Linked DNA regions of Homo sapiens. The protein of the gene in region 7 interacts with the protein of the main gene of each other region in a pairwise test. Each region holds a gene or a part of one and is shown on either strand. Other genes may lie near its edges. The genes, in order: CFTR, IQCN, HTT, JPH3, DAPK1, CACNA1C and CALM3.

What was found.
Region 1: the proteins of CALM3 (region 7) and CFTR interact in binary tests that used the Homo sapiens proteins (3 or more experiments, as listed by UniProt).
Region 2: the proteins of CALM3 (region 7) and IQCN interact in binary tests that used the Homo sapiens proteins (3 or more experiments, as listed by UniProt).
Region 3: the proteins of CALM3 (region 7) and HTT interact in binary tests that used the Homo sapiens proteins (3 or more experiments, as listed by UniProt).
Region 4: the proteins of CALM3 (region 7) and JPH3 interact in binary tests that used the Homo sapiens proteins (3 or more experiments, as listed by UniProt).
Region 5: the proteins of CALM3 (region 7) and DAPK1 interact in binary tests that used the Homo sapiens proteins (3 or more experiments, as listed by UniProt).
Region 6: the proteins of CALM3 (region 7) and CACNA1C interact in binary tests that used the Homo sapiens proteins (3 or more experiments, as listed by UniProt).

Annotation. Positions count from the first base shown.
Region 1 is NC_000007.14:117,486,121-117,490,287, reverse strand, and holds part of CFTR (cystic fibrosis transmembrane conductance regulator), read right to left. Parts: intron 1-4,167. UniProt on the Homo sapiens protein: Epithelial ion channel that plays an important role in the regulation of epithelial ion and water transport and fluid homeostasis. Mediates the transport of chloride ions across the cell membrane.
Region 2 is NC_000019.10:18,267,324-18,271,490, forward strand, and holds part of IQCN (IQ domain-containing protein N), read right to left. Parts: intron 2,269-4,167; exon of another isoform or gene 2,265-2,268; 5' UTR 2,156-2,264; coding exon 2,143-2,155; intron 243-2,142; exon of another isoform or gene 204-242; coding exon 1-203. UniProt on the Homo sapiens protein: Essential for spermiogenesis and fertilization. May be required for manchette assembly in elongating spermatids.
Region 3 is NC_000004.12:3,126,369-3,130,535, reverse strand, and holds part of HTT (huntingtin), read right to left. Parts: intron 3,273-4,167; coding exon 2,932-3,272; intron 613-2,931; coding exon 489-612; intron 232-488; coding exon 113-231; intron 1-112.
Region 4 is NC_000016.10:87,689,508-87,693,674, forward strand, and holds part of JPH3 (junctophilin-3), read left to right. Parts: intron 1-138; coding exon 139-1,019; intron 1,020-4,167. UniProt on the Homo sapiens protein: Junctophilins contribute to the formation of junctional membrane complexes (JMCs) which link the plasma membrane with the endoplasmic or sarcoplasmic reticulum in excitable cells.
Region 5 is NC_000009.12:87,703,313-87,706,613, reverse strand, and holds part of DAPK1 (death-associated protein kinase 1), read right to left. Parts: intron 483-3,301; coding exon 1-482. UniProt on the Homo sapiens protein: Calcium/calmodulin-dependent serine/threonine kinase involved in multiple cellular signaling pathways that trigger cell survival, apoptosis, and autophagy.
Region 6 is NC_000012.12:2,685,435-2,689,601, forward strand, and holds part of CACNA1C (voltage-dependent L-type calcium channel subunit alpha-1C), read left to right. Parts: intron 1-301; coding exon 302-408; intron 409-731; coding exon 732-835; intron 836-3,012; coding exon 3,013-3,345; intron 3,346-4,167. UniProt on the Homo sapiens protein: Pore-forming, alpha-1C subunit of the voltage-gated calcium channel that gives rise to L-type calcium currents. Mediates influx of calcium ions into the cytoplasm, and thereby triggers calcium release from the sarcoplasm.
Region 7 is NC_000019.10:46,603,816-46,607,958, reverse strand, and holds part of CALM3 (calmodulin-3), read right to left. Parts: intron 2,133-4,143; coding exon 2,102-2,132; intron 136-2,101; exon of another isoform or gene 1-135. UniProt on the Homo sapiens protein: Calmodulin acts as part of a calcium signal transduction pathway by mediating the control of a large number of enzymes, ion channels, aquaporins and other proteins through calcium-binding. Calcium-binding is required for the activation of calmodulin.

The DNA.
Region 1 (4,167 bases), on a different chromosome or scaffold from region 7:
ACCTTGACTAATATGCAGAGTAAATACTCAATGAATTTTTGATATCATAATAATACTGTGCCATGTAAAGATAAGGATAACTCATTGTACTGACGAGAGTAGCTGAGGTTCAGAGAGATTAAGTAAATTGCCTAAGATCACATTGTTAATAAGTGACAGAGTTAGGATTCCAGCCAGGTCTGTCTGATTCCAAAGTACATGCTTCTTCCATCATATATTGCTACCTGACAGTTGACAATGAAGATAAAGATGAAGTAGAATATGAGATCATTTTCTAAGGATACAAATGGCTGGAATGGGGACACAAGGGAAGATCAGGAACAACCAAGATGGGGGAAGAATTAAGTCAGTGGTTTTCACACTATGAGCCCCAATACCTAGTGTTCTCTAGAAATATTTCAGTGAATTCACCAACTTCTGATTTGAAATGTATGTATTTTAAAATATTATTTTATAGACAGGAACCAAGAAAATCACACATTCTCAAATGTAGGACTATATGTTAATTTTAGCACACTAGATTGATCCGAACATGATCCTGGGCTGTCAGGCTTGTTTAGTATTCACTATGTAGGAAAGCTTCTGCTGACATCTCCTTGCACATATTTAAACCTGTTATGATCTGTTATTGGTTATCTCTGCACTGCATTAGTGAGCATGTCACTACACCATATGTGGGCCAAGCTCAGTTAACAGCCCATCATATCTTTGACATACCTGTTTGCATGAGGTTTCATCACAGCATAACAGAGTTGTACAACACTCAGGGAACAATAATAAGCCACATATGATATTATCATGGTTTTATAATACTTTATCATGCGTACTTGCTTTAAGGTGATATTGGTTATAGAATTTACCATCAATTTAACAATAGCCTTTCCAAAAAGAAGCACTACATTAACTATACACAGTTTTTAGAAATTAACAATATTACATACTTATTCATGCAATCACCTACCACTTTCTTCTTCAGCATCGTAATTAAAGTTTTAGTCTAAGCGTTCTTCATATTCAGAGCAAAAATATTCTTCTGAGTCACTCTCAGCCTTTCAGAGCTATGAATAGAGTTACAGTGACAAACTGCATTCATAACACCTTCACCTGTAGGACAGGCAGTATAATTTCAAGGCATAATAAAGTGCTGAGCTTAGGCGACTTCTACTTTAATTACATTGCTTAGTATGTCAGACAAACTTCAGACTAAATATTACCTGTTTTTTTTTCAAAACTACATCACAAAGTAATTTATCCCAAGAAATTTCAAGCAACAAACTAAATTTATTTAAGAGTCAACCTTGTGGGATGCAACCAATGCAAATAATTCAGCTGAGGTCACAGGAGTATATATACCTTTATGTATTGCTAAGTTCCCATATTACAACTTATTCCTGGGCCTTGTGGCTGACAAGTTTCTTTTGACATCAATTATAAAAGGCATCTCGATTTCAGAAACATAACACTGTGAAAAACACAACCATGTAGGATCAAGAAAATTACATATAAATGTTATACAAAATCACTGTAGCCTTTACTTTAGAGCACTAGGTTAACTGTTTCTTTGTATTTATGGGAGAGTTATTATCTTTTATTGTCACTGCTATTTGTATACACTGCGGTCCCATGGAAAATTTTATTTGAAAATTGATTACAGTATTGTTTTTTAAAAAAATTGTGAAAAACATTGCCCTGGGAAAATGCAAGACACAAGATAGATAAGATAGAGCCTTTGCCTTGAAGGACACATTAAAAGATGCATATTCCAAAAAAAGAGGCAATGAAATGGTCAACAGAGACTTATAAGTCAAAAATTATTCTGGACAATAATCTAATAACTGTTAAGCTACCATTTTCTTCTTCTGAAAAGTCCATTTTGCATGTCTAAATGTTTCACTTACTTTTAAAATTATTCAGTTACCGAAAAAAAGTTATAGAAGACTTAAAATTTTTTCTAGATTTTATTTTAAACTAAGAAAGACTAAAAACTGTATCTTTTAAAGCATATTGCAATAGAATTTAAATAAAGAATATTTTGCAACATGTAAAAGTTATATGAAATTCAAATTTTAATGTTCATAATAAAGTTTAATTGAAACACAGCCATGCTTATTTGTTTGCATATTGTCTATTGCAGAGACTTATGTGGCCCACAAAGCTGAAAATATTTACTATCTAGCCCTTTACACAAAAAAGTATAGCAATGGTCTTTGGTCGAAAAAGTGATGCTTTTGTGTTGGTATTGTTGTTTTAATTTCTAGAGTTTATAGAGATGTTTAAAATAAATAAAACGTACAAAGGGAGCCCCCTATATAGTTTCTCCACCTTGCTTCCTCTAGAACTGTGGTTGCTAATCCCAGCCAACATAGGCTTCATTTTCTTGTCACACCCATAACCAATGCTGGACTCTAAGGTTTAGCCCTTGAATCACCTCTTAATACAGCTGTCAGTACCCCTGGGATTCTGCCTATTATGCTTAATTTTCACACATTTGTCTGACTGGTATCAAATGAAATTCTAGAGTCCCTTTTTGAAATTATTAAGCCTTCACTAGGCATTTGGGAGTAGATGTGAAGTCAGGTAGGAGGTAGTTGCACCTCTGTAGTCCATGCTAAGAAAGAGAACTCTGCATATTTAACAAAGCTCAAAGTTTTAACATAAAACAAGGATACATAACCTTTTCAAAAGTAATGAAAACCTTCTTTTAACACACACAGAAACCTCATCATAGTAGGTGAGCTCCTATTTTTATTCAATCACTGGAGACAATATCTGAAGTCCCAAGCAGATTTTCATACCACATTGAATTTCTATGATCTCTCATATGTTGTGTCCCGTGATGTGAAAAGCACTGCCTAAAGGAGTGAAGTTATCAGGAGGTTCAGACATCAGTTAGCAGGTTATATAGGAGAGTTCTAAGTATAATTTCTAAGTAGAATTTAACCAGTACTGTCCCTAGAACTCAGCTGCTTCTTCCTAACACTCTCAGGTCACACTATGCCACAATAAGGCCAAACAAGTGGGCACTCTACATATTTATAAAACTGTCACCTCAGACATCTTATATCTCTTACCTAAGACTAAGCTCTAAATCACTTTAATACATTTTCAAATAACCATATTACCTAACCCTGAGCCATATACATCATTTCCGTTTCTGGTTTTGAGAGAAGTAGAGTCACATAGGTCTGCACTCCTGCTCCATGCCTTCTTCTCCGATTAAATTTTCTCATTCAATAAGCAGCACCACTGTCCCCTCTATTATCCAAATCAACAAATATAGATGTTATCCTTAACTCTTCTCTTTCCTTCACCTTCAACTACTAATTGATTACCAAACCAGTTGATTTTACCTCCTAAATGTCTTTCAAATCTCTCTCTCTCTCTCTCTCTCCCCGCCCCCTCCCCCCCACCCCACCCACCTCCACCATGGCCACTCTTTCAGCTCATCTTTTCTTTTACAAAACTGCAACAGTATATGAACTGATTATGTCCCTCTCCTGTTTAAAAGCCATGGCTTTTCACTTCCAGTATGATAAAGCCCAAACAAAGCCTACAAAGCCTACAAAGCCCCCTTACGATCTGGCCCCTGCTAGAGTTTCCAGACCCATCTCCCACAAATCTCTGTCACATATTTTATGTTCCCGTCATAGGGAACTTCTCAGGATATTTTGAAGGTGCCATGCTTACTTATCCTGTCAGTCCTCCACACTACCTGTTTAAATTTTTCCTAGCCCATCCCTACCCTCTTTGGATAATTCTAATTGAATAACCTCCTTTAGGTGTGAATACAAAAGACACTTCCCCCAGCAAGCCTTCCTTGACCAGCCTTAGACTGGGTTAAGTGCCCCAGTTGAGTACTTCAATGAAGCCCTCGAGAAAGCTGGGTTTCAGATAATTTGTTCCATAAAGGCAGCAACAATTTCCTTCTTGGCCACCTCTACCTTCTTAACGTCTCACATAGAATACAGAATATGAATGAGGTCATCTTCCAGGTTACCCAGAATCATGACCTACAAAGGAAGTACTGCTGTATCTCAGCTCCTTGGAGCAAGCTATGGGAGAGTTTTCTGGCTATATCCAGGCATAGCTTCAGGCCTGAGTAGTCCTAATAATCCTACGGACCTAGCAAAAATCTTCATTTCCTTACCCCATGAGCAAGAAATTAGC
Region 2 (4,167 bases), about 28 Mb from region 7:
GCCTTCGGCAGGCTGTTGCGGAAGATGCTCCTTGGACTTGAGGCCCTCGTGCTGGGGCTGTGGAGGCGCTTTCTCCATTTTGTCCAGGAGACTGGGGTGAGCGGGGGCTGGAGGATGCACCGCCCACTGGGTGACAACTGGCTCGTGAACTGTAGCTAGGCGGCCGGCTGCATTGCCTTGATTACCGGACAGGTCAGCTCTGCCTGTGGGGGCGGCAGGGGGTGGTCAGGGTGTAGCAGGTCCTGCAAACAAGAGGTCTCCTGGCTGGGGTGGACACTGGCCCCCCAGGCCCAGATCTTGTTCCTGGCACGTTGCGATCTTCCGCCTCCCTTTTTCCATCCCTCCCTCTCCCAAGTGGTCTTTGCCATCCTTATATCCACCTCTCATCACCCTACGGCCACTTCATCTTGGCACACAGTGTATGACACCTGAATGCCCGACCACTTACCTGCTTTTCTTTTTTCTTTTCTTTTTTTTTTTTTTTTTGAGACAGAGTTTTGCTCTTGTTGCCCAGGCTGGAGTGCAATGCTGTGATCTTGGCTCACCACAACCTCCGCCTCCTGGGTTCAAGCGATTCTCCTGCCTCAGCCTCCCGAGTAGCTGGGATTACAGGTGCACGCCACCATGCCTGGCTGGCTACTTTTCTGTATTTTTAGTAAAGACGGGGTTTCACCATGTTGGCCAGGCTGGTCTCGAACTCCCGACCTCGGGTGATCCACCTGACTCAGCCTCCCAAAGTGCTGGGATTACAGGTGTGAGCCACCGCGCCCGGCCTGCTTTTCAAACTTTATCTTGGATGTACCCTGGGTTTAGCACTGATCACAATGTTTTGGAAATTTCCTGTTTGCCTCTGTGTGTGTGTGTGTGTGTGTGTGTGTGTGTGTGTGTGTGTGTTTGAAAAAGAGAGAGAGAGAAGTGTGGTGGGGGAGATTATTTGCCTCTCCCCATTGATTGTGAATCCTAGAAGACAGAGTCATTTCTGTGTCCCCATCTCAGTCATAGAGCTTGGTTCCAAGCTGTGAATGGGTAGGTATTGGGTGGGGGGGGCATCTTGACTGATAAATGGTGAGTGGATTGGAAGTTGGATGGACAGATAGATACAGGACTAGATACTGAATGGATGAATCAGTCGATGAGTGAATGGTAGATGGGTTGGAAAGACAGATGAAGGTTTGGATGAATAGGTAAATAAAGCTGATGAATAAAGTGTTAAAGGCAAATTGGCCCGGCACGGTGGCTCATGTCTGTCATTCCAGCACTTTGGGAGGCCAAGGTGGGCAGATTGCTTGGGGTCAGGAGTTCGAGGCCAGCCGGGCCAACATGGTGAAACCCGTCTCTACTAAAAATACAGAAAAGTAGGCCAGGCACAGTGGCTCATGCCTGTAATCCCAGCACTTTGGGAGGCCGAGGTGAGCGGATCACAAGGTCAGGAGTTTGAGACCAGCCTGGCTAACGTGGTGAAACCCCATCTCTACTGAAAATACAAAAATTAGCTCGGCATGGTGGCTCGTGCCTGTAATCCCAGCTACTCAGGAGGCTGAGGCAGGAGAATTGTTTGAACCCGGTAGGCAGAGGTTGCAGTAAGCCGAGATCGCGCCACCTCACTCCAGCCTGGGTGACAGAGCAAGACTCTGTCTCAAAAAAAAAAAAAAAAAAAAGAGCCAGGTATGGTGGCATGAGCCTGTAGTCCCAGCTAGTCGGGAGGCTGAGGCAGGAGCATTGCTTGAACCCGGGAGGAGGAGGTTGCAGTGAGCCAAGATCACGCCATCACACTCCAGCCTGGGCAACAGAAGTGAAACTCCGTGTCAAATAAAAGGAAAGAAGGAAGGAAGCAAGGGAGGGAGGGAAATTAAAGAGAGCTGGAAAGACTGGTGAAGAGATAACCCAACAGGAGGTAGACTGATGGGTGGATGGGTGGGTGGGTGGATTAGGGGATGGGTAGGTAAATGGCATATGGAAGGATGGAAAGAAGGAAGAAAAAGTGGTGACTGTGGCTTTCAGAAGTAACTAGGATGCAGAGAGAGCTGGGACACTGTCAAGCCACCCTGATGCATAGCCTGGAGCACAGCACACTTGTTTGGCAGAAGCCCCTCTCTTCAGGTTGGACTAGCCAGACCCCTTGCCCATAGACCATCTTCTTACCTTGAAGGGTCATAGATTTGGAGGAGTAGCAGGAGAAGAAGGTGCAATCTCAGAAGCCAGCCTGCAAGAGGAGGCAGCCTTCAGCCTTTCATCCATGCAATATGCAGCAACACTGCCCTGGGCTGGCTCAAGACCAACACAAAAAGAAATGTTAAAAGCAAAAATGCTAAATTCTAAAATTTCTAAATTCTAAAAAAGCTAAATTCTAAAAAAAAAAAAAAATGTGCAAAGATGAGGAAATTTATTCCAGTGTTATTTTGTAGCTAGAAATCAAACAAAACAACTGGAAATAACCAAAACAGTGATTGGTAGAGGTTCTGCTACAAATGAATACAGAAGTATGTTCAAGGATGTTTAACACTGTATTGTTTAGCAGAGGAAAAACTGGAAGAAACCAAAATTATCAATGGAGACAGGCTTAAATTAATCATACAAGGGCATGATATCCAGGCATCAGAAATGGCGTCCAGGCTGAGCACAGTGGTTCTTGCCTGCAATCCCAGCACTTTGGGAGGCCAAGATGGGAGGATCACTTGAGGACAGAAGTTTGAGACCAGCCTGGGAAACTAAGCAAGAACTGTCTCTTAAAAAAAAAAAAAAAAAAAAAAAAAAATTGGCCAGGCGTGGCTCACGCCTGTAATTCCAGCACTCTGGGAGGCCGAGGAGGGTGGATCACCTGAGGTCAGGAGTTCGAGACCAGCCTGGCCAACATGGTAAAACCCCGTCTCTACTAAAAATACAAGAAATTAGCCAGGCATAGTGGTTGACGCCTGTAATTCCAGCTACTCAGGAGGCTGAGGCAGGAGAATATCTTGAACCTGGGAGGCAGAGATTTCAGTGAGCTGAGATCGTGCCATTGTACTCCATCTGGGGCAACAAGAGCAAAACTGTCTCAAAAAAAAAAAAAAAATAGGCCGGGCACAGTGGCTCACGTCTGTAACCCCAGCAATTTGGAAGGCCAAGGTGGGTGGGTCACTTGAGGCCAGGAGTTCCAGACCAGCCTGGGCAACATGGTAAAACCCGTCTCTACTAAAAACATAAAAATTAGCCAGTCATGGTGACATGCACCTGTAGTCCCAGCTACTCGGGAGGCTGAGACAGGAGGATCATTTGAGGCCAGGAGGTTGAGACTGCAGTAAGCTACGATGGCACCACTGCACTCGAGCCTGAGCGACAGAATGAGACCCTATCTCTTTTTTGTTTTTAAAACAGAGTCCCACCCTTTTGCCCAGGCTGGAGTGCAGCGTCACAATCTCGGCTCACTGCAACCTCTGCTTCCCAGGTTCAAGTGATTCTTGTGCCTCAGTCTCCCAAGTAGCTGGGATGACAAGTGTAAGCCACGGTGCCTGGCTGAGACCCTGTCTCAAAAAAAAAAAAAAAAAGATTGTGATTAAAGAGTAAGTATAAGATAAAAGGTAACCTGGGAGGCCAGGCATGGTGGCTCACACCTGTCATCCCAGCACTTCGGGAGGCCAAGGCAGGTGGATCACAAGGTCAGGAGTTCGAGAACAGCCTGGCCAACATGGTGAAACCCCGTCTCTACTAAAAATACAAAACTTAGCCAGGCACAGTGGCATGCACCTGTAATCCCAGCTACTTCAGAGGCTGAAGCAGGAGAATCACTTGAACCCGAGAGATGGAGATTGCAGTGAGCCGAGATCACGCAACTGCACTCCAGCCTGGGCGACAGAGTGAGACTCTGTCTCAAAAAAAAAAAAAAAAAACCAGGCGCAGTGGCTCACGCCTGTAATCCCAGTGCTTTGGGAGGCCGAGGTGGGTGGCTCACGTGAGGTCAGGAGTTCAAGACCAGCCTGGCCAACATGGTGAAACTCTGTCTCTACTAAAAATACAAAAATTAGCCAGGTATGATGGCAGGTGCCTGTAATCCCAGCTACTTAGGAGGCTGAGGCGGGAGAATCTCTTGAACCCAGTAGGCAAAGGTTGCAGTGAGCTGAGATCATACCATTGCACACCAGCCTGGGTGACTGAGCGAAACTCAGTTCAAAAAAAAAAAAAAAAGATAAA
Region 3 (4,167 bases), on a different chromosome or scaffold from region 7:
AAATTTAAAGGCCCAGGGATGGGAAAGCAATAAAGTAGACAGTAGCCAGGGCGATTTTAAATCCTCACACAAGCTCAGAAACACCAAGTCGTCTCAAGCCTATGTCCCTCACCTTGTTTTCTTGATCACCCGGTTCAGTAGCTTCATCTCTCAACACAAATTTATCAACACTGCTGTCAGAAGGCTGCCTGCAGTGACTCATGTTTTTCAATAAATGTGCCTGTTGAAGGGCTTTAAAAACAGAGAAATCAAGATTAAGTGACAAATTTCCACTTAAAATACAATTATACATTTATGCTAAGATAACTCAAAAGTATAAGATTTAGATCAAGAAAAAGTATGATTATTCCTCAATTGGTCATTTTCATCAGCTATTCAGAACTCAGAAAACAGTATCAAAGGACTTCTTCTTGGAAGCAAAGATATAATTAAGATGTCCAGGTCTGAATACAAACCACTTTGTAGCGCATCACCTGTAGTCCACATACCCATGGAAGAGTTCCTGAAGGCCTCCGAGGCTTCATCAGGAAGAATACCTGTGGCTTCCTCATCTTCATCCTGGGGCTGTCCAATCTGCAGGCCCAAATACTGGTTGTCGGTACCGTCTAACACCTAAACGGTTCAAGGGGGGCTGTGAGAATTTTGAAGTGTGATCACCAAGAGACAAGCCCTCCAACATGGAAGTGCAATGAGGAAAGAGCACATTTTACACACAGAACACAAATGTACTCATCTGTCATTTATTTCAAGGCACAGAAATGCACGCATGGAAACTGCTAAGAGCTTACTGATCACTCATTCCCACTACATTATGAAAAGCTCTATTAGCTCTAAAAACTCCAAAAAAATTCCAATGTGGACATTTCTTTTTAATATGAAAAAGAAAAAACCCATACAAAAATATTTGTCTTCACAAACAAATTTTACAGCAAGTTGGAAATATGAGGACAAAGCTTTTCGACAAAAACCTAACAATATAACAGGTTATCTCCTAAATTGCAAAGACTAAATCTACTAAATTTAGGGTATGGTATTTCATATGTTTAGCCATCAGCTTGGGGCATGATTCCACATCACAAGATGTTTCATGTCCACTTGAAATGTCCTGTGTAATTTACCTAAAAAAACTGAACAATGGACTACCAGCAAATTATTACCAAAATACTATTTTATTAAGTTTGTTAACTACTATACTATTAAGTAAAACACTCAATGATATGAATGTTTTAAATTAAAATTGGAATGTAAAAGCAACTCCATTTCTGGGTATTTAGCCAAAAAAATGGAAAGCAGAGTCTCCAGGAGCTATCTGTACACCCACGTTCATAACAGCATGATTCACAATGGCTAAAACATGAAGCAATACAAGTGTCCATGGACAGAGGAATGGAAAAGCAAAATGTGGCCTATCCATACAATGGAATAGTATTTGGCCTGAAACATTAGGAAGTTCTAACATAGGCTACAACATGCATGAGCTTTGGGGACATTATGCTAAGTAAAACAAATACTGTGTGACTCCTAAAGTATATGAGAACCCAAAGTAGTCAAATTCAGAAGACAGAAAGAAGAATCGTGGTTGCCAGGGACTTGGCGGGAAAGGAGGAATAGAGTTCAATGGGAACAGAGCTTCAGTGTTACATGATCAAAAGGTTACAGAGATGGGTGGTAGCAATGATTCCATGACATTATTTAAATGTATTTAATACCAGCGAACTGTATACGCAAAAAATGGTTAAGAACATAAATTTTATGTTACACATATTTAACCACAGTTTTTAAAACTGAAAATAAAATGGAGTATAAAACTCAACATGGACTTGTAGCAAACATTATTAGACTATCCATGAGGGTTTTTTGTCCACTAACTTAGAGATGAGAAGTGCTTAAACCTATGCCGCTATCAAATGGGAAATGTTGTAAAAGTTTTTTGAAAAGTCAAAAGTTCTTAAAATAATGCACAGTATTAATCACATTTCATTAAGACCACAGATCTGTTTATAATAGGCTCCTTAAGGATTTTTAAAAATAATTATTTAACCAGGGCCCAACAAGGCCTTAAAAAATGTAAAATGCACTCAATTTTAGCAGAGTTCATATAATCAACTATTCCAATTTTTTACCTCAGTGTTCAACACAAAAGACACTAAGTTGTTTCCTTCAGTGAAGGTATCAGATGAGGTCAAGCTCTCCATTAATGATCTAAGCTGCGCTGTCAATAGGGGTATTAGATAACAAGAGAACAAGCAGGAGGGTTCAGGTCTAGGTCTCCAGGGAAGAACTCAAAAGATGGCAGGTGGCAGGGCCGGGCATGGTGGCTCACAACTATAATCCCAATACTTTAGGAGGCCAAGGTGGGTGGATCATCTAAGGTCAGGAGTTTGAGACCAGCCTGGCCAACATGGTGAAACCCTGTCTCTACTGAAAATACAAACATTAGCTGAGTGTGGTGGTGCCCACCTGTAATCCCACCTACTCAGGAGGCTGAGGCGGGAGAATCGCTCGAGCCTGGGAGGCAGAAGTTGCAGTGGGCTGAGAACGAGCCACTGCACTTTATTTTTTTATTTTTTTTGAAATGGAGTCTTGCTCTGTTGCCCGGGCTGGAGTGCAGTGTCACGATCTCGGCTCATTGCAACCTCTGCCTCCCAGGCTCAAGCAATTCTCCTGCCTCAGCCTCCCTAACAGCTGGGACTACAGACATGTGCCACCACGCCCAACTAATTTTTGTATTTTTAGTAGAGACAGGGTTTCACCATGTTGGCCAGGCTGGTCTCGAACTCCTGACCTCAAGTGATCCGCCTGCCTCAGTCTCCCAAAGTGCTGGGATTACAGGCATGAGCCCCTGTGCCCGGCCTCCACTGCACTATGGAGTGAGACTCTGTCTCAAATAAAAAATAAAAAAAAAGATGTCAGGCCCCTCTGCCCACTTACAATTTCAGAACTGTCTGAAGGGGTAACAGCTGAATCAGGCCCTTCGGTGGTGGTCTGGGAGCTGTCGCTGATGGGCGACGAGGCCTGGGTCCCATCATTCAGGTCCATGGCAGGGTCAGATGGGACGGCGCTGACCTGGCTGGAGCTGTGGCTCAAGATATCCTCCTCATCCCCATCAGTGGCAGAGCTTGTCAAGTCACAGCTGGCCAGATCCACTGAGTCCGCCTGCAGTGTGTGCTGTGACCGTGGCTGTTCTGTGATGATGTCATGACCTGCTGACCCTGGAGTGGAAACCCCTGAAGAAGCAGCCAGCTCTCCACTGATCTCATCCTTCACTGAGGCTGAAGACAGAGAAACACTCATTTGTCAAATGGCGAGAGAAAACATTCAATAGGGAATCACAGGCTTGCAAAATAACGAACAGTTCCACCGTTATCAAATGTTTCAGCTGCACAGCATCCTGAAGATGCTGAAATGCAGGACAGCAGTGCATCCTTCAAGCATCTCTCACACTGCCTCCCACTACAGTACCCACCTTATAAAATAAGGCTTATCAGAAGGTGATATTCTCAAATGCTGTTTCACTGCAAAAACCGAAGTTCAAGTTCTTAACCGACTACTCCAAGCCTTAGCTGGAGCAATATATAAAGACATTTGTAATTAAGGGGCAGCCTAGTCAGGGGCGCAAAGCTAGGCGGTCACAGACACGCAGGCCCTCTAAGCAAGCAGTGGTCAGAAACAACTGTCAACTCATCTCTCTGGGGTGGGCTTGCCTTCTTCCAAGCCACATTCAAGATCTCGACTCCAGTCCTATTCTCCTGGAAGATAAACCTGTAACACATTTTCCTAGTTGACTTTCTAAATTACCATTTAAAAACAAAAAAGGCTATATAAAAATTATGGCAAAAAGGTCGACATGAAGCTGTTGGCAGTGGTCACTCCTGGGGCAGTTGGGTCGGTAAGCATGTGAGCTTTATAGTATCCGGATTGCTGTGATGTTTTATTGTTGTTTAATTTGTGTAATCAAAAAAAAATCTATTTTTATTTTGTAAATAAATAATTACTACTAGAATTATTCAGATTTTCCTCTCTAAATATTTAAGTCTTACTTTCAGTTATAGCTAAAATATTCTTTTAGATAGGATTATACAACCAAAACCACCCTCATATAATCCAGTTATTAGTACCTTCAGTTAATCCTCATCTTTTATAAAGTACACAGAGAATTTCATTAGA
Region 4 (4,167 bases), on a different chromosome or scaffold from region 7:
TTGCCTGCAGCCTTTCGGTGAGTGGGAAGCGCCTCTGCTGCCCTGAGGTTCCCTCTGGCGCCCTGGCCCGGGGACCGCGGCCTCGCTGTGGAATGTGCTGGGTAACGCCGTCTGGCGTCGTCTTGTGTCCCCATACAGGGCTGGAGTACCAGAGGCCGAAGCGTCAGACCTCCTGTGACGACATCGAGGTGCTGTCCACCGGGACACCCCTGCAGCAGGAGAGCCCCGAGCTGTACCGCAAGGGCACCACTCCCTCCGACCTGACCCCCGACGACAGCCCCCTGCAGAGCTTCCCCACCAGCCCCGCGGCCACCCCGCCGCCCGCGCCCGCCGCCAGGAACAAGGTCGCCCACTTCTCGAGGCAGGTGTCGGTGGACGAGGAGCGGGGCGGGGACATCCAGATGCTCCTGGAGGGCCGGGCCGGGGACTGCGCCCGCAGCAGCTGGGGCGAGGAGCAGGCCGGGGGCTCCAGGGGTGTCCGCAGCGGTGCCCTGCGCGGCGGCCTGCTCGTGGATGACTTCCGCACCCGAGGTTCGGGCCGCAAGCAGCCCGGGAACCCCAAGCCGCGGGAGCGGCGGACGGAGTCACCCCCCGTGTTCACGTGGACTTCCCACCACCGGGCCAGCAACCACAGCCCCGGAGGCTCCAGGCTGCTGGAGCTGCAGGAGGAGAAGCTGAGCAACTACCGGATGGAGATGAAACCCTTGCTGAGGATGGAGACGCATCCCCAGAAAAGACGCTACAGCAAGGGCGGCGCCTGCCGGGGCTTGGGGGACGACCACCGCCCCGAGGACCGGGGCTTCGGGGTGCAGAGACTGCGGTCCAAGGCCCAGAACAAGGAGAACTTCAGGCCGGCCTCCTCCGCGGAGCCCGCCGTGCAGAAACTGGCGAGCCTGCGGCTGGGCGGGGCCGAGCCCCGGTTGCTGCGTTGGGACTTGACCTTCTCCCCGCCCCAGAAATCCTTGCCTGTCGCTCTAGAGTCCGACGAGGAGAATGGGGATGAGCTCAAGTCCAGTACGGTGAGTGGGCGGCCACCAGGCTGGTCCCAGTGGAGGCAACATCCACCTCTCTGCTGACCTGGTGTTTCCTGAGGGTTTCCAGCAAGGTCACTGCTCCCCTGTTCCTCTCCAGGGGTGGAGTAGGGTGGGGGTACAGCCGGGAGTGGTGGCCCTCAGGTCGCTGGGACCCTCCCCTAGGAAGCCAGGTGGGGCAGGTGTCATACCTCTTTCCGTGAGAGGCTGCCCCCAGGTTGTCCAGAAAGCACACGAAACTCCTGGTTTCCAGGCAGCATGGGATCCCTGCGCTCCCCGCAACGTGCTCAACCCCAGCTGCTCCAAGAGTCTGTGCCCCTGGTCAGTAGCCTTGGGCCGTGAGATGACCGCTTGAGTGTCCTGTGTCCTGGATAGGAACCCAGAGGCGAAACAGCTGGGGGCAAGGCTGGCCCTGGGGCTGGGAGTCAGGTCTGGGGTTGGGGGGAGCTGCCAGTCCAGGTTTCTCTCACCCATGGGGGGTGTTGGGGTTGGAGCCGGCTCCCACGTGAGGCCCGCTGTGTGCAACTCACCGTCAGCCTCACCCAGCACCCCCCCCCCAAATTCGTTCCTCCAGGGCAGGCAGCTTGGAGGGAAGAACAGCGTCCCCCTGGGCTAGACTCGGCGCGAGGCTGGGGGTCCCAGGCTAGACTCGGTGTGCGAGGCTGGGGGTCCTGGTGCCTCACACAGGGCTGGCCTCCCCTTGAAGGGACCTTCACTCTGCAAATCCCACCCTGCTCCCTTGACCAGTGCTGCAGGAATGAAGGGCTTTGGGAATGAAGGGCTGTGGGACGGTGGCTACATAGGATCTGCGCACGGCCAGGCCCTCACCCCAGCAGGGCTCTGCTCGCTCGTGGCTGCCAGGCAGTGCGTGGTGCTGAACAGAAGTGCTGCAAGCCAGTCTGCCCCTCGGGTGTGAGGACGCAGGGGGGTGTCCGCAGGGGGCGCTCAGGGCGTGTGGGCCGGGCAGGGGGGACCATTGGTAGGTTTATTGTCGACGCTGCGGCAGGGGTCGGTGTCTGTCCCTGCCCCTGACCTAGGGGAGCTGTGGTTTTCTCCTCCTGCCAGCCCCACCCCCAGAGGGGTCACCGCGTGACACCCCTTTGAAGGGGCACGTCCTGCCGGGCGGCAATGCCTGTTTCTGCCTCTCCTTGGAACCACTGCGGACGTCTGTCTGTCCTGTTGGGTTCCTAAGATGCCTCCCCGTTCCCCAAAGCCCACAGAGAACAGCCCCTATGCTCCTGCTGGGACCAAAATACCAGCTCACACTTACAACTTGATTTTCCCCATCGCAGCCGGAGATGTGTGCGTGGCTGTGCGCGCGCGGTTATTTTAGGAACAGCCAAGCAGTGGGCAGGGTGGGAGGTGTAGGGACGGGTTCTATTTTTAGCCTGCTTAATGCACTGACACTTTTGGGTGCTTTTAAATGAACCTCCCTGGGGGTCAATGCACAAGCTGGGGACAAGTGCCAAGCTGGCCTCTGGGATGAGTTAGCGACACGCAGGGTGCTACATGCTGCCCTGGTCCTGCCCGGTCTCCAGCTGGGGCTAATCTGGAGGTCCCGTCAGCTGCAGCATCATGTCCCACCCACCCTGGAGGATGCCAGCTGAGCTCCTTGGAAGTGGCCACCCTGGGGTACCTGGTGCTGGTGCAAACAAGGTTTCCCTCCCTGTCTCCCTCCCCGTCTCCCTCCCCACAGCTTTGGAGCTGTGTTTTCTGCCAGGTCTGTGAGGGGAGATGGTGTGTAGAGGCGCGGTCAATCCTAAGCACTGTTCCAGGCCCTGTTGGTGGGAAGCAGGAGGGGCCCGTGCCAGCCGGCATCCATGTCAGGGGACAGGTGTCAGGGCAGTCGGGTGCCAGGCTGGGCTGAGTGCCTTCAGTGCCACCCCCTCACAGGGGTACAGCTCTCTGCAGTGTCTCCCCTGGGCCACCAGCAGGGTCTGGGGTGCTGTCTTCTGGCCATCCCCCTCCACCATTCCCAACATGCTGCAGAGCTCACACGCCAGAGGCCCTGGGTCCCACTGGCCACAGATGGGCCTGGGATTCTAGCCCACATAGGGTCCCACTGGCCACAGATGGGCCTGGGATTCTGGCCCGTGTAGGGCCCTGGCAATTCAGGGTAAAGTCCCTTAGGATGGAAGCACAGGTTCTCCCTACCGCTCTACTGGTGAAGGAACTCTGGCCCTGGCTGTTTCCCTCTTGGTGAAATGATGGATATGACCTGATGGTGGGGTCCAGGGTTGGAGGATGGCTGGGGAGACAGAAGCTTCCCTCCTGCGGGCAGCCACGCCCTCGCCCACAGCGTCCGTACCTGCTTCCCGGCCCAGAGCACGGGCTGGACTGTGGCAGAAGAGGTGCCACTGACCACCCCACTCTGTCCTGCTACCCCACTACAGGCTGACTAGCATCCGGCCCTTCCTCCTCGCTGGGGTGGGGGAACTTTGCACCAGGGGTGGCATCAGTGGGCAGGGCTGGGCCCTTGGCTGTTCTCTGCCCCCTGCAGGCTGGCCCGGCCCAACCAAGTTGTCATGGGGCCCAAGACTCACAATACACCTGCCTGAGGCCACGATGCCACGGAAAGCTGGGCTCAGGGCAGCTTGCTTTCTCTCTGGCTGAGTGGAGGCCCTTGCTGTGTCCACAACTCCACTTCCATCTGCGCCTCAGGTCCCTGATAGGCTGGGAGGTTGCGGAGGGTGTGGGCCTGGTGCTGCTGTGGCTGCAGGTGCCCCCTAGGCAGCACCTCACCCTCTGAGGACCCTCCTCTCTGAGCTGCATCCCAAGGACAGTTTACAAAGCCCTTTGCTGACTGGGGTTCAGCTTATCTGTTGAGCAAACTTTTTCTTTAAAAAGTTTCTTGGCCAGGCACGGTGGCTCACACCTATAATCCCAGCACTTTGAGAGGCCGAGGCAGGTGGATCACCTGAGGTTATCAGTTCGAGACCAGCCTGGCCACCAGGGTGAAATCCTGTCTCCACTTAAAAATACAAAAATTAGCCGGGCATGGTGGCACACGCCTGTAATTCCAGCTACTCAGGAGGCTGAGGCACAAGAATTTCCAGAACCCGCAGGAGGCAGAGGCTGCTGTGAACTGAGATCATGCCACTGCACTCCAGCCTGGGCAACAGAGCGAGACTCCATC
Region 5 (3,301 bases), on a different chromosome or scaffold from region 7:
GCCCCACGGTTGGCCAGCTTGCAGCCATTCACCCACAGGCGGATGTCCGCGTCGCCCTCTGTGCTTTGCTGGTGGATCCACCGGCACAGGTTCACCTGGACCTTGTGAAAGATGCCACATGGGAAGGGGGTGAGGTGTTCCACGGGCACGATGCGCACGCCACCATACACCATCACCTCGTCCTCCTCATCAGCCCAGGAGCGGTGCAGGTTGTCTGTCTTGATCAGGGCTGGGACGTCCACCATGGTCCCGCTGCTCAGGTCCCGGGCGCAGATGTCCATGGCATCGAGGATCTGCAGCAGCTCCTCCACGTCGCTGTCGGGCACCAGGCGCTGGATGTCCTCCACGGTGTAGCGGCCCCGGTAGTGGTGCAGCGCCCGTGGGGTCTCCACGGACAGCAACTTCCCCAGGACGTTTGTGCAGAGCCAGCGGGGGTCCAGGAGCAGCACGTCCTGAACTGTTTCACTTTGCATGATGTTGATCTGCGGGGGGACAACAGAAAGTCACGCTTAGGGACAGAGCCCTGGCCAGGTGCACCAGCCACTTAGAGCACTAAAGGGCCTGATGCCGGCAACAGAGGCTGAGCAGATGCTCTAAGGAGTGACCCAAGGCCATTCCACGTGGATGCGTCTCAAAAACCAAACACCGAGTGGAGAAAAGCAGCTTGAAAATGTCAGAATAGAGATTCTGAAAAACAACTCCCCTGAAGTCTTCAAAAAGGCCAGCGAAATGAAAGAAGAAAAAAAAATGGGAGATGGCAACCAAATGCAATGAGTGATTTTAGACTGGATTCTGAATCCCAAAATAAGTACATAAATAAAAATAGCTTTAAAAGAAATTATTGGGACCAGTGGCAAACCCTTGTATGAGGATGATATATTCAATCATAGTACTATATTAATGTTATGTTTCTGGAATCATCAATTATATTGGGTTATGTGGGAAAATATCCTTCTCCTTAGGAGATATAGGCTAAATTATTTAGGGAAGAAATGTCATCATGTCTGCAAAATAAATAAGTAAATAAATAGAAAGGAAAGGAATCGAGCAAATGTAGCAAAATGTCAACAACTGATCAGCTTAAATGTAGTAGGCTGGGCACCGTGACTCATGCCTGTAATCCCAGCACTTTGGGAGGCCGAGGCGGGTGGATCACTTGAGGTCAGGAGTTTGAGACCAGCCTGGCCAACATGGTAAAACCCTGTCTCTTCTAAAAATACAAAATTTAGTTGGGTGTGATGGCTTGTGTCTGTAGGCTGAGGCAGAATCACTTGAACCCAGGAGGCGGAGGCTGCAGTGAGCCGAGATTGTGCCACTGCACTCCAGCCTTGGCAACAGAGTGAGACTCTATCTCAAAAAAAAAAAAAAAAAAATTAATTAATTAATTAAAAAAATAAATAAATGTAGCCTATATGAGAGTTCATGGTACTATCCTTGCAACTTCTCTAAAGGCTTGAGAACATTTTCAAAAAAGAGTCAGAACATTCTATTATTATACCATTATGTGAATGTTTAACACACACACATAGAAAAGGCCTGAAAGGATATGCTGCCATGATAATAGTTGGCCTCCGAGAAGGGGAGAGAGGAGTGAGACCAGAGATGATGGCCCAAGGGGACTTTAGCTTTTTGGTTGTGTTTATTTCTTAAAAAAATAAAAAGAAAGGAAAAAAAAGTGACAAAAAACAGAAGGAACTTTCCCTTTATGGAAGAGTTCTGCTTCCTTTCTTGGAGAGTGGCCATCGCCCTGGACTCCCTCACTTGGAGGCTCTGACCCCACCGGTGACCACACAGTAATTTCCTGCCCACAGTCTGGCTTAAACCTGAAAGATGCCCCCTGTCTAAGAGTCTATTCAGAATTGAACCTAGGTTGAAAATTCCTGGAGGGCAGAGCCAATATTGATCTAGTTCCTGATACAGCATTTGCTGGAATACCATTTGCAGTTTGGTCCTAAACACTGCTCATCGCCTCAGGCTCAGGAAAGACGAAACTGTCCCATAGTGGAGGAGAACAGGGAGCTAAGACAGTCAGCTAAACGTAGTGTGGGACCCTGGGCCAGAAAACAGAGTCAGAAGGGCCACTGGGGAGTTCTGAAGATCTGCAAATTAGATACGGAAGGCAGGTCTGGAGGAGGCCCGGGGCCAATCAAAGTCGGGCCACACAATGTAGTTCCTGCTGCCTAATTACCCTCCTTCTTTACATCTTCATTTACTTACTAAACTCTCAAGGGCAAGCAGGGATGTAATGACAAATAAAGGAGACTATATGATATGATCTAGAAAGTTGCTGGTCTACTACTAGAAAGCAAGGGACTCCTGTGCCAAAGGAGTTTAGAATTAGAATTGACACATTTTTTACATCCAGCAGTATCTTGTCATCTAAGATGTGGTCCTTCACCTGTGTTCTTCCTTGGATTCAATCACTTTAAAGTATTCCTGGATGAGTTGGCAGATTCTCTGGCCATTTAACTGGGAGTTTAAAGGCTGATGAAATTACTGCCCGGCGACTCCAGTTTTCAAGGTCACTGGCTTGTGGATTCAGGTTTAGTTTCAAGAAATTTGTATGACTCATACAAACTGGCTATAGGGCCAGACCTGGCACCTGAGATTGGGGAGGTAAGCATCTGGCTTTTAATAATCTCAGAGCTGCTTTTAGTTGCAATATTCAGAACCGCTCTTCTTGGCCCACACTAGTTCATGTAGGCTCCCAATTTCACATGGTGGAGAAACACGAAGGCACTGCCCCCGTTCCTGGGACAGGCATATGATGCCATTAGAACAGGGTTTCCAAACCGCGCCCTGGTGCTCAATGTCACAGAACCAGAGCAAAGCCTCCCATTCTCAATCATTTCTGCTGGGCATTGCTTGCTAGAGTTTTTTAATGTGCATCTTTAATTATGATTACTCTGTGTATCTGTGCACCAGAGTTCTCTGTCTTTGTATCTCCAGACATTGCCTCCACAAGGACACCTCACTGCCTTTTCTCAACTGTTTTCCCACCCAGGAGATCTGTGTGGAGCTGATGACTCCACGCTGATACAAAGAAGCCATCCTGAAGGCTGCCAGGAGTAGCAGATTAAGTTCCTGGTGCCCAGGGGGAGTGAAGAGAGACCCAGTCACCCAGGGCAGTGGGCACTGCACTCCCAAACTAACAGACTCTGGAAATAAAAGCAAAACACGACAAGACAAAATGACAGCTCCTAAGGTGAGCCGAGAACTGCAGTTCAGAGCGTCACTTGAGGCTGTGTTTGTCACACGTGTGGAAATGTTGTAGGTTAGCTGGACCATTTCCACACTGCTT
Region 6 (4,167 bases), on a different chromosome or scaffold from region 7:
ATTCTTTCCGCTTTCTCAACACCTTTGACCCCAGAGTGCCTTCACTGCCCCAAGTCAGAACTGCAGGCTTATGAGACAGGCTGCGGGTGAGGAGCTGGCCATTCCCACTGAGCAGGCCTGGAAGACGTCAGGGGCAGGCCAGAACTTCTTGGGGTGGCAATTCCCCAAACCTGCATGTAAGCACAAAGTGTGCGTCCCTTCACTAAGGATCAGAGCAAAGTGCTTTCCGGGGGTGCAGCTGTCCCTGTGGGTGGCCACTTCTCAGCCTCCAGGAACAAGCCCCATGAGCTCTCTGTTCCAGGCTCTCCTACCAGGATGACGAAAATCGGCAACTGACGCTCCCAGAGGAGGACAAGAGGGACATCCGGCAATCTCCGAAGAGGGGTTTCCTCCGCTCTGCCTCACTAGGTAAATGCACCGCTCGCTCTCTGGATGTGGTCGGCGGTTACTCCCTAGAGAACACTGGTCAGGGATGATTGGGAAATCGTTGTGGCCTGCCTCAAATCAGCCCCACACAGTGGGGCATTTCCAAAGCAAGGAGACAACATTCCAAAGGCAGGGTGTGCAGGGATGAGCCCTGGACACCAGAATACGTCTCAGACGAGGGGAGGGGAAAGGAGGAGCGTCTCGGGCCATAGTTACTGCTCCTGGCACCCCACCAGGGTGTAAACTGTCACAGGCCAGTGCCCTGTTTTCCTGCCCTGATGGTGGCTCTCTGGCTGGCTTTGCAGGTCGAAGGGCCTCCTTCCACCTGGAATGTCTGAAGCGACAGAAGGACCGAGGGGGAGACATCTCTCAGAAGACAGTCCTGCCCTTGCATCTGGTTCATCATCAGGTAGCTCACACTTTTGGACAGGCCACTGTCACCTGCCAGCAGGCCAGACAGTCCCCAGGGTGACGGACAAATCCTGAAGACTTCAGTGGGTCTTGCCTGTCTCAGATGGCTGGCACGTCCTGCCCCTGCCCTAAGAGCCATCCCTGTAGGGCTTCACACTCCTGTGCAGGTGAGGGCCACGGCAAGGTCTGCAGCATCGCAGGTGGGGGCCTAGGAAGTGCTGGTGCACAGGAGCTCTTTGTGTGATCCTGAGGACCCACAGCTGCAGGTTCCACCTGAGCTTTCTTCTTAGGCTGCCACAGATGCCACTGACGCCTCTGACACTGGCCTATGCCTCAGGGCACTCAGGAAGATGTACTTGTACCTAGAGTTTGAATATACCTGGAAATTTTGCCACACAAAAATCCATCCAGTGACATAAAGAAGTGATTAAAGAACCCACCAGCAACATGGTCAAGAGTAGGGAATGACATCCGTGGGAAGCAGGTCCAGGGAGATTCCATAAATGAAATGTCTCTTGGCATGGCTGACTCCAGCTGAGACAGTGAAATCCAAGATGCCAGGACCAAACATGCCTTAGTATCTTTGAACTTCAGTGTTATCTAAGGCCAGTCTATTAACCCCAGGCAAACTGAGGTCTAAACCTGGGTTTCCCAACATTCTGACCTTATTAAAGTTATACTCTTTTATAGCATGGACCTATGTTTTAAATAGACCTATGCTTTGTACCCAAAGGCATTCAACTGCCAATCAAAAGTCATAATCAGCATGAGATGGCCAGTGTGGCCTGGCTGAGTTGATAGTACTTCAGCTCCAAAAAATAAACAGGTTTTCTTAGCCTGTGTGGTGTTGTCTTCCACTGGGCTTTCTGAAATAATGAATATGGCCTTACACTTTTCTCAGATTCCCAGGGACCCAGGAGCCCCAGGCTGAGGACCACCATGGGCAGGGGCAGGAGGTGGAAGGATGTGGGGACACTGTGTGTGCTATCTTAAAAGATTTCTAGAAGTCGATTTCACCTATCTGTTCTTGTCGTACTGGTAGGCACGAAACTCTCCTCTTCATCTCTTTCTCCTCCTGTACTCTGTGACCCTAGAGGTGGTCTTTCCCCACCACAGTGTCGCTCTCTCCCGGGAGCACATCCCATCAGAGCAGCTCACCCTGCAGAGCCTCTGCCCTGGCAGGTTGTCATGGCAACAGCCAGACAGGCCTGGTCCCTACCCTCAGGATGCTCAAGAATATTCAGGGACAGAGGGCGTACCGTGTGACTTTTTTTTTTTTTTTTTTGAGACAGAGTTTTGCTCTTGTTGCCCAGGCTGGAGTGCAATGGCACGATCTCGGCTCACCACAACCTCCACCTCCCGGGTTCAAGTGATTCTCCTGCCTCAGCCTCCCAAGTAGCTGGGATTACAGGCATGCACCACCATGCCTGGCTAATTTTGCATTTGTAGTAGAGACTGGGTTACTCCGTGTTGGTCAGGCTGGTCTTGAACTCCCGACCTCAGGTGATCTGCCCGCCTTGGCCTCCCAAAGTCCTGGGATTACAGGCATGAGCCACTGCTCCCAGCCCTGAATCTTTTAATCACAATACAGCACCGGATTTAACAATGGCTCAAAGACAACCTGAGCTAGAGACTGGCAGGGCATTATGAATGGCCCCATTAACTGTGAGAACTAAAACCACAAATACTGGTTTTCCCAACTCTTTGTGAGGTGCACAGCGCTTCTTCACAGACCTCATTGCGCTTGAGCCTCACACCAGCCCCACAGGGCAGATGGATAGACAGCATTCGTTTTCTGGCTTTACAGACATGCAGGCCTCACCCTGCTCTCCATTCTATTGAGGACAAAACCAAGAGCGAGAGAATGCACAGCTGACAGGTGACCAGGCCAGGGCTAAAAGCAGGTTACCACGACTTCACCCAATCCCAGCTTTCAGAAGTTACAGGAGAAAGAGATCACTTCAGACCCAGATGATCCTAAGATGTATTTTGAGATAGTTGAAAGTCATGCCAGGTTGAGATAGGACCGACAGGGGAAAATAATGGCATGGGAATACCAGGCAGGTGGAGCTAGCTGGACACAGCAGCTGCAAAGCAGTGCTTGCTCAGAAGCAGGGGCCTGCCTTGTTTGGGGTCGGCCACTCCTATTAACTCACACTCCTTGTGTGTCCGCAGGCATTGGCAGTGGCAGGCCTGAGCCCCCTCCTCCAGAGAAGCCATTCCCCTGCCTCATTCCCTAGGCCTTTTGCCACCCCACCAGCCACACCTGGCAGCCGAGGCTGGCCCCCACAGCCCGTCCCCACCCTGCGGCTTGAGGGGGTCGAGTCCAGTGAGAAACTCAACAGCAGCTTCCCATCCATCCACTGCGGCTCCTGGGCTGAGACCACCCCCGGTGGCGGGGGCAGCAGCGCCGCCCGGAGAGTCCGGCCCGTCTCCCTCATGGTGCCCAGCCAGGCTGGGGCCCCAGGGAGGCAGTTCCACGGCAGTGCCAGCAGCCTGGTGGAAGCGGTAGGTGACTCGCAGATGGGCAGGGGGGAGAGGCCACGGGCAACAAGGGGACTTGGCATGCGGGGCTGAGAAGGGAGCACCTGGCTCTTGCCAAATTCATTGCAGTCAATATCTGAGCCCGAAAGACCCTCCCTCTCAGGGCTGCAGGAGGGCTCGTGTGCGGAAAGCCATGACTGCACAAGATGCTATGGGCTCTCTTGAGGCTGGGCCCACTGCAGAGGGCGGCAGAAACCACTGAGCAACTTATCCCTTATACTGCAGCTGCTCGACATGCAAATGTGAGCCTGGCTGCCTTTATACACAGACAGGCAAGATCCAAGGTGCTCAGGCCTGACTGCCCGTGAGCATCACCTGGGGAGCTTTGGAAACCCGGGACAGATTAACTGATGATTGTTAAAGCTCTTCGATGATTTTAACGTGTAGCAAGGTTGAGAGCCACTAGCCTAGAACAAGCGAGCTTTCAGTCCCACTGTGCTCTGCCTGGTCAGAGCATCTAGTGCAATCCCGGCACCACATTATTAGGGACCTTTGACACACTGGAACAAACCCAACAGAGGATGACCAGGATGGCAAGGTTCCTAGAAACCATTTCCTAGGAGAACCGTTTCAGGGAATTCGGGAAGAAAACCTGGAGAGGAGGTGACTTTGGAGGGTGCGATACACCTCTCACACCTGCAACGGGTGGGATGGGGAAAGGGTGGCAGGCTCAGCCCACCAGCGGACAGATTTCAGCTCACATGGGGAAGACCTTCCCAAATGAGCTCTTCCAAGATGAGAGGGGCTTGCCTGAAAGGTAGTGAGCCCCCCATCATCAGACATAGC
Region 7 (4,143 bases):
CTGGCCAGCCAGTGAAGACAGTGGGGAAAATGGTCTGACAGCTGTCCTTAGATGATTCTACATTTCTGTTTGGTCCCTGGCTTTGACTTCTCCCTTGAAATGATGAAATGAACCAAAGTCATGGAGTGAATGAGAGCCGAAAGGATTCTTTGTCTGAGTGTGTTAGCCAGGGTTGGCTGGCTGGGACGAGGAGGGGAGGCTGCAGAATGCCTCTGGCCGGCCTGAAGAGGAAATGCAGGCATCCACTCCCTTCTGACTGGCAGCCCTGTTCCTTGCCGTGGGTGCTACCAGCTTCCAAAGGAGCTGAGCCACTGCGTGTGGTGAGCGTGGGGGTGGTCGGCAGCAGAACATGGCTGACGGACAGTGCGTGGGGTTGATGGGGGGATGGAAAGCGAGGGGACGGCTGCCAAGCCAGGAGGATGAGGAGCTAGCAGTGCTGAGTGGGAAGGCCACAGCTGGGGCCGCATCAGGGGCAGGGAGAAAAGCACATGGCTCTTGCCCTCCCACTGGGCCCATTTTGGCACCTGGTGCTCCTCTACCCCCAAGCCCTCCAAAAACAGATGTCCGGCAGCCTATTCCCAGAGGGTGTGGGCTGGGGTGAGGCGGTGGACAGTTTGCTAATGGGGACAGGGTGAAAAGCAGACCGTTTATGTTGCACAAGGCCAGAGTTGGGAGATGGGTGGCAGGTGCATTGGGAGGGACATGCACAGCTGGGAAGCTGTGGCCCTGAGCCTCTGGGCCCTGGGGACATGGCAAGAGTCTCTTTGGGGAGGCTGGCACCTCCCTGTGCTGAGGCCTTGTTGTTCTTGGGGAGGGCAGGTAGTGAGTGGGTCATGGGGCACCCCGAGCTCATGATCACTAAACCAGGCCATCTTCTGGCTTTCCTCAGGGGTCTCCATAGCCACCCAGGGCCAAAATTTTGAAGCTGCAAAGGTGACTCTGTGATGCGGGTTGAGGGGAGAAAGGAGAGAAGGCAAGTCCGTTCCTGCCTCCCACCGCAGAAGCTGGGCCTTTAGTACTTGTTACACAGCCGGTTGAACCTGACAGCAGAGCTGGGGGCTGGGTAGCTGGTGGGGAGCAGAGGCCCATTCTCTGGATCGCTACTCTGGTCTACTGTGTGCTGGCCCCTGGCTATGGAGATAAACCAAGAGTTGCTCTCTGTCCTCGGGCAGCTCAGTATGGGCGGGTAGGCAGGCACGGATCTGTAATTACACAATAGTTCCTGTAGCTGACCCTTCTGGGGTTTTGGAGGGGTTAGAAAAATGAATTAGATGGGATCCAGGGATTTCTTCTAGCTTGCTGAGAGAGAGATGTTTGTTTAGCCAGCAAAAGTTTGCGGAGGACCTACTACGTTCTAGGCAGGCATTAAGGCTATAGCAGGGACCAACAAAACCAAGTCCCAAACTCAATGGAACTCACATCTAGTAACAGGAGATACAACAGGTGAAGACATAAGAAAATAATTTCAGACAGCGAGAAAGGTTATGAAGAAAATAAAGTGATGTGAAGGAGAGTAAAGGAAGGCTGTGTACTTGAGATGGGGGTCAGGGAAGGCCTCCCCGAGGGGACATCTGAGCTAAGGGACGGGAAGGAGCTGCCCATGCAAAGCACTGGGGAGGCACTTCCGCCAGCAGAACAGGCAGGCGCAGGCACATGCGAAAGGAAGTGCAAAGCGCAGGCAAGCGCAGAGGTGGGAGTGACGAGCCAGCTCCTGGGCGGCTCCTAAAGTGGGACAGGAGCTCTGCAGGCCCCACAGGGAGGCAGGGAGCTCACCTTCTAAGCCAACCTGGCTGAAGCTGGGAGAGAGAGTTGGGCTCGTCCTGCAGCCACTGATATCAAGCCCCTAGATGACCCAGGCCCAGGAGAGGAACACAGCCTTTGGTGTCTGGTAAAGGCCTGTCTCAGGGCCATGGGGCTTCGTGTCATTGGGGCACTGGTGTGCTCTTACACACATTTATCAGCATTCTAGGCACAAGGCATAGTGTTAGGTGACACAAGGGATACACAGGTTCACCCATCAGATGTCACTCCTCAGTGGCTAAGATTTGGCTGGGGATGTGGAGGCTTTCCTGAGCTAAGATGAGGGGGATAGCAGACTCACCTGCAATCTGCTCCTCAGTCAGCTGGTCAGCCTGTAAAAGCATGAAGGGGAAAGTCAGTCACCAGGCCGGACAGCACGGACGCATCTTCCTCACTCAGCCCAGACCCTCGGCCCCAGTGAGGCCAGCTCCACGTGCCATTCCCGCCGGGCCAGGGAGGAGCATGCCAGAGTCAGGGTCTGAGGCAGAGCCAGCGCCTGATGATAAAGTCTGGTGATTCAGAAAGCTGGGTACCAGGGTGGGCTGGACACTCAGGCCTGCTGGACGCACGGCCCGATGAAGCTGCCCAGACCCACGGGCTTCCAATCTCAACTCAGCATGTGGGAGCCACAGGGGCGGGAGAAAAGCCTGCCCCAGCCCCAAACCAGCAGCGCTGGTGAGGCCTGGCACAGGTTTGCATCTCATCAGTGAGAGCCCCAGAGGCCGAGTGAAGGGAACGATTGCCCTGGAGGCCTCATCAAGAAGCTCTAGAAGGCTCCAAACTGAAGCAGGCCAGTCCTTGGGTAGGGCAGAGGGACGATGTCTGGGGCTATCTCTGCTAGTTTCTGTGTCACCTATTTGGAGGCGGTTGGCTCAGGCAGAGTCCACCCAAGTGGCAAAAATTCTCCTAACCGGCGGCCCGAGTTGCTCAAGCACCTAAAGAACTCTGGTCAGGCTGGAGGCAGGCGCTCCACCCCCTGCGCACAGTGAGGGCACAGGGCCATTCTGTTTTGTTTCTTTTGGGCAGAAGGGACAAACGTCAGGGAGAGGGCTGCAGCGGGCAGCAGCAGAGGACTGAAGCTGGCTTGCACTGCAGTTTTTAACCCTTTCCAGCTTGGGCACTCTGGGGACTGGCCAGTGGGTGGCAGGCAGCCCTTGCTGCATGCGGGGTTTGGGGGTGGGGAGGAGATGCGGGGACTGGCTTCTCCTGCACTGGTGTGCTGGGCATCAGCCAGGCATAGTGATCCTATGGGGCAGGAGCGGGGCTGGGGGGTTGGGGAGGCTGAATCCCAACATTTAGCTTTAGCAGCCAAAAGACACATTTTCCCTGGTTTTTGTTGATGCTGTGAAGAAGGCACCACCATCCCGGGACCATGGTGGGTCTGTTCCCCTTCCTTTCACAATCAGGGAAAGGGGCTCCAAGTCTATAGCATGTTCTAGTCTCGAGTCTGAGAGCCTCAGAAATAGAAGCAGACTATTATGTGAATTTGCAGTATTCTACGGAGAGGTTCCAGAAGCTAGGAACAAACCACTGCCTGCCTCCCCTACCCCCATCCCCGTCCCAAATATTAACAATCACTGATCTAAAAAAGTTAGAAAAAAAAAAAAAAAACCTAACGGAAGAAGAACTTGCAAGCCCCAAATAGGCAGAATGGGAGGGGTAATCAAAATGATGATCACAGAGGGGAGAGGGCTTAGGGAGGGGGAAAGAGGAAGGGAGAAAACGGCACACATGCACATTCTGGAAAAGTCCAAAGTGTAAAGGGGAGGTGGGGAGGCCAAATGAAGATTCTTCTGCATTGCCTTCAAAAAAGACAGGGTGGTTGGGCTTCTAAATGCCAACCTGGTAGCCCCAGGCCCATGAGCCTCTTGATCCACCTGCCCCCCACCTCCCACCATGGACAAAAAAGCCTGGAGCCATCCCTTAGGTCCTGACACCTGAGGAAGAGGCTTAGGGAAAGTGAGAAGGGAGGATGGGCTTCTGGTTACCGAGACCAGGCAATGCCCAGGGAGGGTCAGGGAAAGAACAGAGAGGAGGGCAGCAGTGTGGGGAGGTGGCTGCCATCCCATCTGCTTTTCATTCTTTCCCCTGGCCTAGAATGGAAAAAGCGAGCCAGGTCAGGGCCTTCCCAGCCCACTGTTCCGCCCTGCAAGAAGTCCAGCTCCCCGGACCTTTGGGCAGCACTGTAAGGGGCTGGGGGTGGGGGCGAGGAGGCTGTGACAGGCTGCAGACTGCCCCGAGCGGCTCTGAAGGCCACCGTTTGCCAGTCTCCACCAAAAGACTGGAAGATGCAGATGAGGCACTGCCATGTTCAGTTCTGTCACAGGGTTGCTGCAAATAGGC